Linked DNA regions of Homo sapiens. The protein of the gene in region 1 purifies or fractionates together with the protein of each later gene. This does not show direct contact. Each region holds a gene or a part of one and is shown on either strand. Other genes may lie near its edges.

Region 1 (5,796 bases):
CGAGACCAGCCTGGCCAACATGGTGAAACCCCATCTCTACTAAAAATACAAAAAATTGGCCAGGCATGATGGCAGGCGCCTGTAATCCCAGCTACTTGGGAAGCCGAAGCAGGAGAATTGCTTGAACCTGGGAAGTGGACATTGCAGTGAGCCGAGATCACGCCATTGCACCCCAACCTTGACAACAAGCACAAAACTTTGTCTCAAAAAAATTGTAAGATGTTACATGATGAGTATGTCAGCTAACAGTAGCAAAAGCCAGATGCATATGTACATACTTGGAGTCTCTTTGTCTAAATTAACGGAATCGCCTTTCTCTGCCTTATAGGCCTTTGATTCTGGAGTCATAGATGTGCAGTCAACACCCACAGTCAGGGAAGAGAAATCAGCCACTGACCTGACAGCAAAACTCTTGCTTCTTGATGAATTGGTGTCCCTAGAAAATGATGTGATTGAGACAAAGAAGAAAAGGAGTTTCTCTGGTTTTGGGTCTCCCCTTGACAGACTCTCAGCTGGCTCTGTAGATCACAAAGGTAAACAGAGGTAAGTGAACTCAGAAAAAGAAAGTTTTTATTTTCTAATTATTTCCTTCTGGATTCTAAATCTGAGAGAATTCCACATGAAAAATACAGTGAAAACCTTGTATATATAAACAGATTTGACGGTATGTTAGCTAATCTGTAGGTTTAATAATACAGTTTTCTAAGTAACTGTTTAGGGAGCAAAATGACTGCCGCAGTGTGCCTTAGCATTTTTGTCATGTTTCCTAAGAAAGATTCTGTCTTATGCAGATATAAAGCAGTTATTATAAGACATTACTGCATTTGGGAGGTGGCGCAAAATGTATGCTCAGTGGCATAAATGTTCTGGTGAACTGAGTTTTCCATTTACTAGAGGTAACAGGAATACCCTTTGGTTTTTACCTGTGATGCAAACCGTTCCACATTGTGTGAATGAATCTGAGTGACAAGTTCTCAGAACGTGGAGTCAGAACGCATGTGTTTCTGTCAAATTTCTGTTTCTTCCTATGTGACTTGTAAAGTATCTTATCCTCTCTGATCCTCAGCTTATTTATGCATAAAGTGAGAATAATTACTTGCTTCCATAAAATTCAAATGAGATAATCAAATGTAAGTGCTTCATAGAATGCTAATTACGGATTTAGAGTAGTGAAATATCCCTTTATGTCAGTAATTTAAAGTAATCATTCCAAACTTAGTTCATTTTCTACCCCTTCAATATCTGTTCTTCATACTGTACATTTCATATTAGAAGTGGCACAAAAGACCACACAAGTACCATAGACAGGAATCTGGGAAATTGACCAAGATTCCTTTAGCTCATCCTGAACATTTCTCACTAAATTCTCTAAATACTGTTTGCTTTACATATTAAATATCTCCAGAATATCACTCTTCATTAAGGCTTTTCTAATTCTGGCCTAAATTATTAAATTTTTTTAACATTTATTCTTTCTCCACTCTTTCCTCATCTCTACCTCCACCACCATCATCACCCCTTTATCACCAACGTATCCTGTACTCGGCTAGCAGGCTAATCATCTAAAACAAAAGTCTGTGTGAAATGTTATCCATTGCTTACAGTACAAAAGTCAAACTCCTTTGCAAGAGCTACAGGGAATTTCATAATCTGGAACCTCATTTCTTCTTGTACTCATTTTCACATCCTTTGCCACCATCTTTCTTAATTCTTAGAGACCTGGGACTTTTCATTCTTGTTCCTGGTTCCCTGGTTTTTTATGCTAAATGATTATCAGGATACTTGTCGCAATTTGCTATACCTCTGTTCTGAAAGATTCTCAAAGCTACACTAGAAAATAAAATCATCATTTGAAGACCATACCTTATACTACATGTATGTGAAAAATAATCCTCTCCTATATTTTGAAATTTAGACCCTACTTTAACTAGAGAAATAGAAATTAGTTCCACTATGTTCTGGGTACTATGTTAGGTTCTGGTGAAAAAGAGGAGAAAAATATAGTTTACATACCTCAAAAAAAATCACATACTAATTGATAACATAGTATTATTTATAACAAATTGTAATACAAGAAATGATGAAGAGAAAAGAGAATGCTAGTACACTGTTAGTGGGAATGTAAATTAGTATAACAACTATAGAGAACAGTTTAGAGGTTCCTCAGAAAACTAAAAATTGAGCTACCGTATGTTCCAGCACCACCACTGCTGGGTAAGTATATCAAAAATAAATATATGTTTAAAAACTAATCTAAAAAGAAGAACATCGGCATCCAAAGAATAGTTGAGCTTTTAGAGAAGAAAATATGGTGCCTTCTAATAAATGTTATTTATTTGGCTCCTGGATATTTCAACATGGTCAACTAAATAATCTATAAATCAATATATAAATGCTGTACATAAATATTTATAAATTTATTATAGCATAAATACTATAGTATACTAAATATACACTGCGTAAATACTATATAATTTACATTGAAACTTCACCACATGATATGGTTTGGCTGTGTCCCCATTGAAATCTCATCTTGAATTGTAGTTCCCATCATCTCCATGTATCATAGGAGGGACCCAGGGGAAGGTAATTGATCATGGGTGTGGTTACCCCCGTGCTGAAGTTCCTGTGATAGTCAGTGAGTTCTCACGAGATCTGATGGCTTTATAAGAGGCGTTCTCCCTTTCGCTCTGCTCTTCTCCTTGCTGCCACCATGTGGAGAAGGACATGTTTATTTCCCCTTCTGCCATGATTGTAAGTTTCCTAAGGTCTCCCCAGCCCTGTGGAACTGTGAGTCAATTAAACCGCTTTCCTTTATAAATTTCCCAGTCTCAGGTATGTCCTTCATACCAACATAAGAACAGGTACCACAGAGAGTGGGGTGCTGCTATAAAGACACCTGAAAATGTGGAAGCAACTTTAGAACTGGGTAACAGGCAGAGGTTGGAACAGTTTGGAGGGCTCAGAAGAAGATAGGATAATATGGGAAAGTTTGGAACTTCCTAGAGACTTGTTGAATGATTTTAGCCAAAATGCTGATAGTGATGTGGTCAATGAAGTCCAGGCTGAGGTGGTCTCAGGTGGAGATGAGGAACTTGTTGGGAAATGAATTAAAGGTCACTCTTGCAATGCAAAGAGATTGATAGCATTTTGCCCCTGCCCTAGAGGTCTGAGGAACTTTGAACTTGAGAGAGATGATTTAGGGTATCTAGTGGAAGAAATTTCTAAATGGCAAAGTGTTCAAGAGGAAGCAGGGCATAAAAGTTTGAAAAATTTGCAGCCTGATGATGCAGTAGAAAAGAAAAACCCATTTTCTGGGGAGAAATTTAATCCAGCAGCAGAAATGTACATGAATAACTAGAAGCAAAATGCTAATCACCAAGCCAATGGGGAAAATATCTCCAGGGCATGTCAGAAGTCTTCACAGCAGCCCCTCCCATCACAGAGCCATAGGCCTAGGAGGGATAAATGGTTTCTTGGGCCAGGTCCAGGAACCTGCACTTGGTAACCTGCTTCCCAGCCACTCCAGCCTTGGCTAAAAAGGGCCAAAGTATAACTGGGGCCATGGTTTCAGAGGGTGCAAGCCCCAAGCCTTGGCGGCTTCCACATGCTGTTTTACCTATGGGTGCACAGAAGGCAAGAATTGAGGTTCGCCAACTTCCACCTAGATTTTAGAGGATGTGTGGAAATACTGGATGCCCAGGCAGATGTTTGCTGCAGGGGCAGAGCCCTCATGAAGAACCACTACTAGGGCAGTGCAGAAGGGAAATTTTGGGTTGGAGCTCCCACATAGAGTCCCCACTGCCTAGTAGTGTTGTGAAAAGAGGGCCACCATCCTGCAGACCCCAGAATGGTAGATCTTTTGCTGTGCACCTGGAAAAGCCACAGACATTCAACACCAGCTCGTGAAAGCAGCCAAGAGGGGATGACCTGGATGTGAGACATGAAGTCAAAGGAGATTAATTTGGAGCTTTAAGAATTTACTGCCCCACTGGATTTCAGACTTGCATGGGGCCTGTAGCCCCTTCATTTTGACCAATGTCTCCTATTTGGAACAGGTGTATTTACCCAATGCCTGTCCCCCCACATTGTATCTAGGAAGTAACTAATTTGCTTTTGATTTTCAGGCTCATAGGCAGAAGAGAACTGCCTTGTCTCAAATGAACTTTGGACTTGGACTTTTAGGTTAATGCTGGAATGAGTTAAGATTTTGTGGGACTGCTGGGAAGGGATGATCATGTTTTGAAATGGGAAGATATGAGATTTGGGAGGGGCCAGGGATGGAATTATATGGTTTGTCTGTGTCCCCATCCAAATGTTGTCTTGAATTTTAGTTCCCATGATCCCCTCGTGTTATGGGAAGGACCAGTGGGAGGTAATTGAATCATGGGGGTGGCTACCCCCATGCTGCTGTTCTCATGAGAGTGAGTGAGTTCTCATGAGATCTGATGATTTTATAAAAGGCTTTCCCTCCCTTTTGCTCTGCACTTCTTGCTGCCACCACGTGAAGAAGGATGTGTTTGCTTCTCCTTCTACCATGATTGTAAGTTTCCTGAGGCTTCCCCAGCCCTGTGGGGAATTAAAATTAAATTAATTTAAATTTAAAATTAAATTAAAATTCTTTCCTTTATGAATTACCCAGTCTCAGGTATGTCCTTCATAGCAGTGTGAGAATGGACTAATAAACCATAATAATTTCTTTAGAAAGTACCATAATGAGAAACTACCTAGGTGATATAATCTATCTAGCTAGCTATCAAATATAGCTCAGCTTGCAAGAAAAAAGGGGAAATTAGCAAGCGTTTAATAGCCATCTGAACAGATTTTCACGTATGAAAGCTACAAATAAGCCATTATAAATATGCAAAAATTTAGGGAATATTCCTTCCATGAGCATATCCTGAGGAAGCTAATACATGAGTTACCTTGGGCAAGCCAAATGGCTGGGGAGATATCACCATTAGAATTAGGTGTGAGCATTAACTTTAAAAGCAAAGTAAAATGATGGTAGCAAGAAAGAGAATGTGTTATAGTACACGGTTTGAAAAAACAGATACAGCACAACCATCAAACTTTCAGGTAAAACGTGATAGTACATAAAATTTGGAATGAGTATTTGATTGCTTCACGGCTATTAACTGAAAATAAAAAATTATTACAACAAATAGATGCTTGGGGACTGAAGAAGAAAGAAAACATTACAAACTGAATTTTATAAATCTTGTACTAAATAACAATAGACAAAAACTGAAAACAGAGAGGTGCAAGATTATTATATAAAAATATTAATACAAAAATAATCATAAGAATAAAAACTAAAATTTCTCTATGAAAAAAAGCACGATAAAATAGAATACAGAGAAATCCTGTATGTAATAAACTCATATGTAAGTTTTAAAATATGATTTAAAAATCTATTATATCAATAAATGTGGATGGCTATAACTTGCCTATTAAAATGCCAGTGTTTTCAGACTTGCTGATAAAGGAAAATAAAATACTTTTCTGTATTTGAGAGATGCAATTAAAAATAACAAGATTTAGGATGGATAATAGTAAAAGAATGAACAAACGATACCAGAAAAAAAAATAACTTAAAAATGAAAAACAGTGCAACATCATTTACCAAAGAGAAACTACAAAGAATGCCAGAAAATAGAAAGAAATGTATTAATAAGGCCGGGCACCATGACTCATGCCTGTAATCCCAGCACTTTGGGATGCTGAGGCGGGCAGATCACCTGAGGTCGGGAGTTGGATGCCAGCCTGACCGACATGGAAAAACCCCGTCTCTAC
Region 2 (4,908 bases), on another chromosome or scaffold:
AAAGTGCAAGAAATCAAAGACTCTTTGAAGCCTCTGTAAATACAATTAAAATTAGATATCATGATCTTAAAAGTCCTCTTAAAAAAAAAATATGCTCAAGAAACCATTTTACCTTTTTTGATTCATAAGAAGTTCTCTGTGAAGATCTTGATGGTTCCGGGAGGTTTTTACAGGATTGATCAGTTTCTGAGGCCTAATGAGTTCAGGATTGTCATCTTCTATGTAGTCTGGCTCGGCCATGATGCTTCTTGTAATGAGATATGAGTCCTTATGGTCAATATCCTCAGGTGGGCTGTCTGAAAGAGAAAGATGAGAAACACTCATTTGCAGTTTTTGCTAAGGCTTTTCCCACACATGCAGAGGCCCACAGAGCTGTGCTCAGTATGCTAACACATGCCATCCTCCTGAGTCCACTCTGGGGCATCGCTGATAAATATTCTAAAGCGCTTGGAATGTAACTGGGCTGGGGCAGGGAAGAGAATGGTGGCCTGGTCTCGTCTTGCCCATGACTAAGGCCAGGGAGCCCTGTGGCCTGACTTCTATCACTGCCACTGCCACAACTTGGGTTCCGGTCACAAAGGATGCTTCCTGCCACCCTGTCTCCATATCGACCTCAGAACAAGCACTTGAGTATGTCAGAAAAAAAGAAAGTTCAAATGAAAATTGGAACACTGGCCCACAATGGCTGCAGTTGGACACATGTGTCAGGAAAGAGGGGCCTATAAACTAAAGCTGGCCTCTTGCCTATCTTACTGGAGTTTGTTAAATATTTCACTGATGGTTATTGGTCATAAATCTGTTTACCAGATACAGAACAAAGACGGGATGGAATCAGTCACCCTCCACCAGACTCTAAGATGCCTAACCTTTCTCCTACCCACTCAGCTGCATATTTACCTTATTTATCTTATGCACAGCCTCTGTGACCACCAATCACAATCACAGGACTGAAACCGCTGCTTCACTGCCTGCTTCGCCCACCGCTGTGCCACATGTATTCCCCTGTTACAAAATACAAGGCCGAGCAAGGTGGCTCATGCCTGTAATCCCAGCACTTTGGGAGGCTGTTGTGGGAGGATCACTGAGGCCAGGAGCTCAAGACCAGCCTGGGCAACATAGCAAGACCCCATATGTTTAAAAAACATTGGAAATGCCCTGGGCATAGTGGTACATGCCTATAGTCTCAGCTACTCAGGAGGCTGAGGTGGGAGAATCACTTGAGCCCAAGAGTTGAGAGGCTGCAGTGGGCTATGATTGCACCACCGCACTCCAGCCTGGGTGACAGAGCAAGAGCAAGACCTCATATCTCTAAAAGAAAAGAAAAAAAAAAAAAAAAAAGAGGCTGGGCACAGTGGCTCATATATGTAACCCCAGCACTTTGGGAGGCTAAGGTGGCTAGATCACTTGAGGCCAGGGGTTTGAGACCAGCCTGGCCAATATGATGAAACCCTGTCTCTACTAAAAATACAAAAAATAGCCAGGCGTGGTGGCGTAGTCCCAGCTACTTAGGAGGCTGAGGCAGGAGAATCGCTTGAAGCCAGGAGGCAAGAGGTTGCAGTGAGCCGAGATCGCACCATTGCACTCAGCCTGGGAAACAGAGAGAGACTCTGTCTCAAACAAAACAAAATAGAAAAGGAAAGGGAATGAAACGTATATATATTGCGCCTCACATAACTTACTTTGGAACCCATTCTCAGTCTACACTGAGTCTGTGTTCTCAGGCTTAAGTAAGTCCTCAAACTTGGCTCCAAATAAATCTAACTGCGATTTCTCTAAGTTTTAGTGCTTGTTGTTTCACTTGTTGGTCAATAGGCACCGGACCCAGGTCCTTTACTGCTAATCCTTCAGCCTCAGCAAATCAATCTATGCTACAAACATATCAATGCTGACCCTGTGCCAGTGGAAAAGGCTTCTAGTTCTCAGCACGGTGCTCGCTGGCCTGTGACACTGCTCACTGTCTCCTTCCTTAAGCACCTTGTGGGCTTCATCCTGCTTGTATCCTTCCAGGCCTTTCCTCAAATGTCACCTTCTCAGAGAGGCCTGACCTCCTAGCTGCCCTGCTGAAAAGTATGACCCTGCCCCCAGCACCTCCCCGTGTTATGTTCTGTCCACCAAACCAAAGCAACATCTTTACAAAGTTAATGTGAAAATAAAGAGAATGAAAATCCAAAGGCTAAGTCAACTGAAAAATAATGTAGCTGCAACATTTGTTTAAATATCTTAAATATCACTCCATGATTAGGCTCAAAATTATCAAACAGTAAGGCATATATAATAAATTACACCAAACATTCCTCAGACACTAGTTGCATTGCTCTTTTAACAACAAGAATGCCTGCAACCTGAACTGAATTGAGAATTACAAACCTCGCAGAGGGTGACTCAGGGAACCCATCACAGCCAGCCTGATATCAACACACTGTCCCATGGAAAAACGTGCTCCTCGGCAAAATCCTAAATGCACTACATACACCTCTGCTCAGCCACAAGTGTCTGAAAAATCAACTGCAGTTTCCTTCTAGTTAATCATAGACCAAGAAGGCTACACACTTCCATAAAAGGCTCCGTATTTCTGCCCTTCACCATAGATAATCTCCACGATGCCAAACCCAAACAGACAACTGCCTCTGACCTTGACCTCGTTATTACATTTGGGGAGGAGCTGGAGGGAATGTGACAGAAGAGCGGGCCGTGATCAGCAGCGAGAAGAGCGCATGCAAAGGCCACAGGGTAGGAGGGTGCCTGGGGGGGATGAGGAATGGCAAAGCGCGAGGCTGGCTGCAGGGGAGGGAGGGATGGTGAGGATATAGAGCGTGGGAACTTGAACACCAGTGCTGGCATTCTGGTCTTCACCCTGAGGGCCATGGGGAGTCATTTCCAGGTTCTGAGCAGAGTAATGACGGTATCTGACTCATGAGTTAAAAGATTACTCCAGCTCCCAGGTTTAGAACGGGCTGCAGGCAGGCAGGGCGGCAGATGCAAAGGTCATCCAGGTGAGAGATGCTTTAGACTCACGCAGCAGCAGCATAGGTAGGCGGAGAGCCTGATTCAAGATGTATTTTAAAGGTAAAGTCTCTGGGACTTCCTGAAGGACTGGACACGAGGCGTGAAAAGCACTGAGGAATCAAGGATGACTTGGAGGTTTCCGGCCTGAGCAACCAGAAGGCTCAAGTTGCCATGACGGGAGGCTGAAAGAGCAAGTGGATCTAGGACGTGTCGAGTCTGAGACGTCTGATCGACATGAAAGAGGTGACATTGAGAGGGCAAGTGCAGCCAGCGCTCAAGCCTGGGTGACTCGCTCTCCTTTACCTGACTGACTCGCTCTCGTTTACCTGACTGACTGGCCCTCTGCAGTCTCAGGCTTTGCCTGCCCTCCGCTTTCCGTCCCCTCATCCTCTGTCCCGCACTCCCACTTCCCCCTCAACTAGAGACAGCATAAGATGCCCACTCAGCCTTTCCTGGACGTCAGTGTTGAGGTGCAAACATGACTTGGGCCTTGTTGCCAGGAGGGAGGTTGAGCTTCCAGTGCACAGAATGAAATGACTTTAGTTCTGAATCTAGGAAACAGGCCCTAGCTTGGGATGTTTTTCTGACTTCTCTTTAGATTTAGTTGCTTGGAAATCTTTCTTCTCACATAGGACCAGTGGGGTGAGGGGCACCCAAGCCTGTCTCCTATTAGAGAGACACGGGCACTGCGAGCCGGTGCAGGAGGGGGGGGCTGCGGTTGACTTTTCAGACACTTGTGGCTGCACAGAAGTGCGTGTAGTGCATTTAGGATTTCAGCCCAGGAGGATGTTTTTCCGTGGGACAGTGTGGTGAAGTATATGTATATGCTGTCAACACAGGGGCAAACATCTTCCTTCTTTTTCACTGGTTTGTCCTTCTTCACAACTGGAGCTGGAAAAGGGGGTGCACAGGAGCCTCTCAGTCTGAGTTAAGCATGGAGACCTTAAGCCTGTCCTCAGAACAGGTGGCATGGTCCCTGCAGCTCCTCATGCAAAGGCCACACTGGGGTCTGGGAAATGGTCATTTAGTAACAAGGGGGTGAACGGGCCGGAGCAACCCCCTCCTTGAGTCTTTGTACTCAGGGCAGTGGTGGTGGCGGGAGAACCATGTGGGATCTGGGTTCCAGCTGCTTCTCAGTGACACCCCGCCCTGGAGCTGTGACTAACACATGGCAATAACCATCACTATGACCTTCTTCACAGCTCTCTTCCCTCTGCCAGCCATCCTGCTCACTGCTACCAACGCTGGAAAATACAACTCTGGTATAAGGCAACTCTTGCGTCTCACAAATCCTATCTTCCGATCAAGCTGAAACAAATGTTCTTGCTCCCCACATCCTCACACCCCGCCTTCCCTCCACCAGCATGCTTACAGCAGCACTGCACCCTCCGAAGGCGTGCTGAGGCTTTTCCCACCGCAGCCCCGGATCTCCACAAAGCCAAACTCACGCATCCAGCAGATCCAAATAAATGCCGCATCTGCCCTGACGCCTTCCCAAATTCTATGGGATGTTCTTTGTTCTTTTTTCCTAGTAATTCGTCAACCACCGCCTTGTATTATAGCAATGTGGATATAAATCTTATCCTCTCTTCACTGCAAAGAACATGTCTGGTTTATGTTCCTATTCTTTTGACCCCTTGGACCTGTTCAGAAAGCATTACTTAAATGAAGTAACAAAGGCATGGGCTAACGACAGAGGGTGTCCCTGAGCCATTTGGATTCCACCGCCATAAGGTGTAGTGCAGAAAGTGGGGTTGAGCGGCCAGGTACATTTCCTCTCTGAGCAACAAGGAATCCAGGAGCCTGAGAGTAAAGATGGGGTAGAAATGTCTAGAGGTACAAGTACTTTGCAAGCAAATATTATTACTGACATGAAACATCATTTCTAGAAATAAACACAAA

The links. The genes of interacting proteins can lie anywhere in the genome.
Region 2: the proteins of OSTN (region 1) and FAM107B purify together in Homo sapiens (affinity purification with mass spectrometry; one large-scale study listed by BioGRID and IntAct). This does not show direct contact.

What each region holds. Positions count from the first base shown.
Region 1 is NC_000003.12:191,218,419-191,224,214, forward strand, and holds part of OSTN (osteocrin precursor), read left to right. Parts: intron 1-328; coding exon 329-543; intron 544-5,796. UniProt on the Homo sapiens protein: Hormone that acts as a regulator of dendritic growth in the developing cerebral cortex in response to sensory experience. Induced in the brain following membrane depolarization and inhibits dendritic branching in neurons of the developing cortex.
Region 2 is NC_000010.11:14,530,220-14,535,127, forward strand, and holds part of FAM107B (protein FAM107B), read right to left. Parts: exon of another isoform or gene 4,209-4,908; intron 3,250-4,208; exon of another isoform or gene 3,067-3,249; intron 2,731-3,066; exon of another isoform or gene 2,657-2,730; intron 2,496-2,656; exon of another isoform or gene 2,429-2,495; coding exon of another isoform or gene 2,368-2,428; intron 297-2,367; coding exon 113-296; intron 1-112.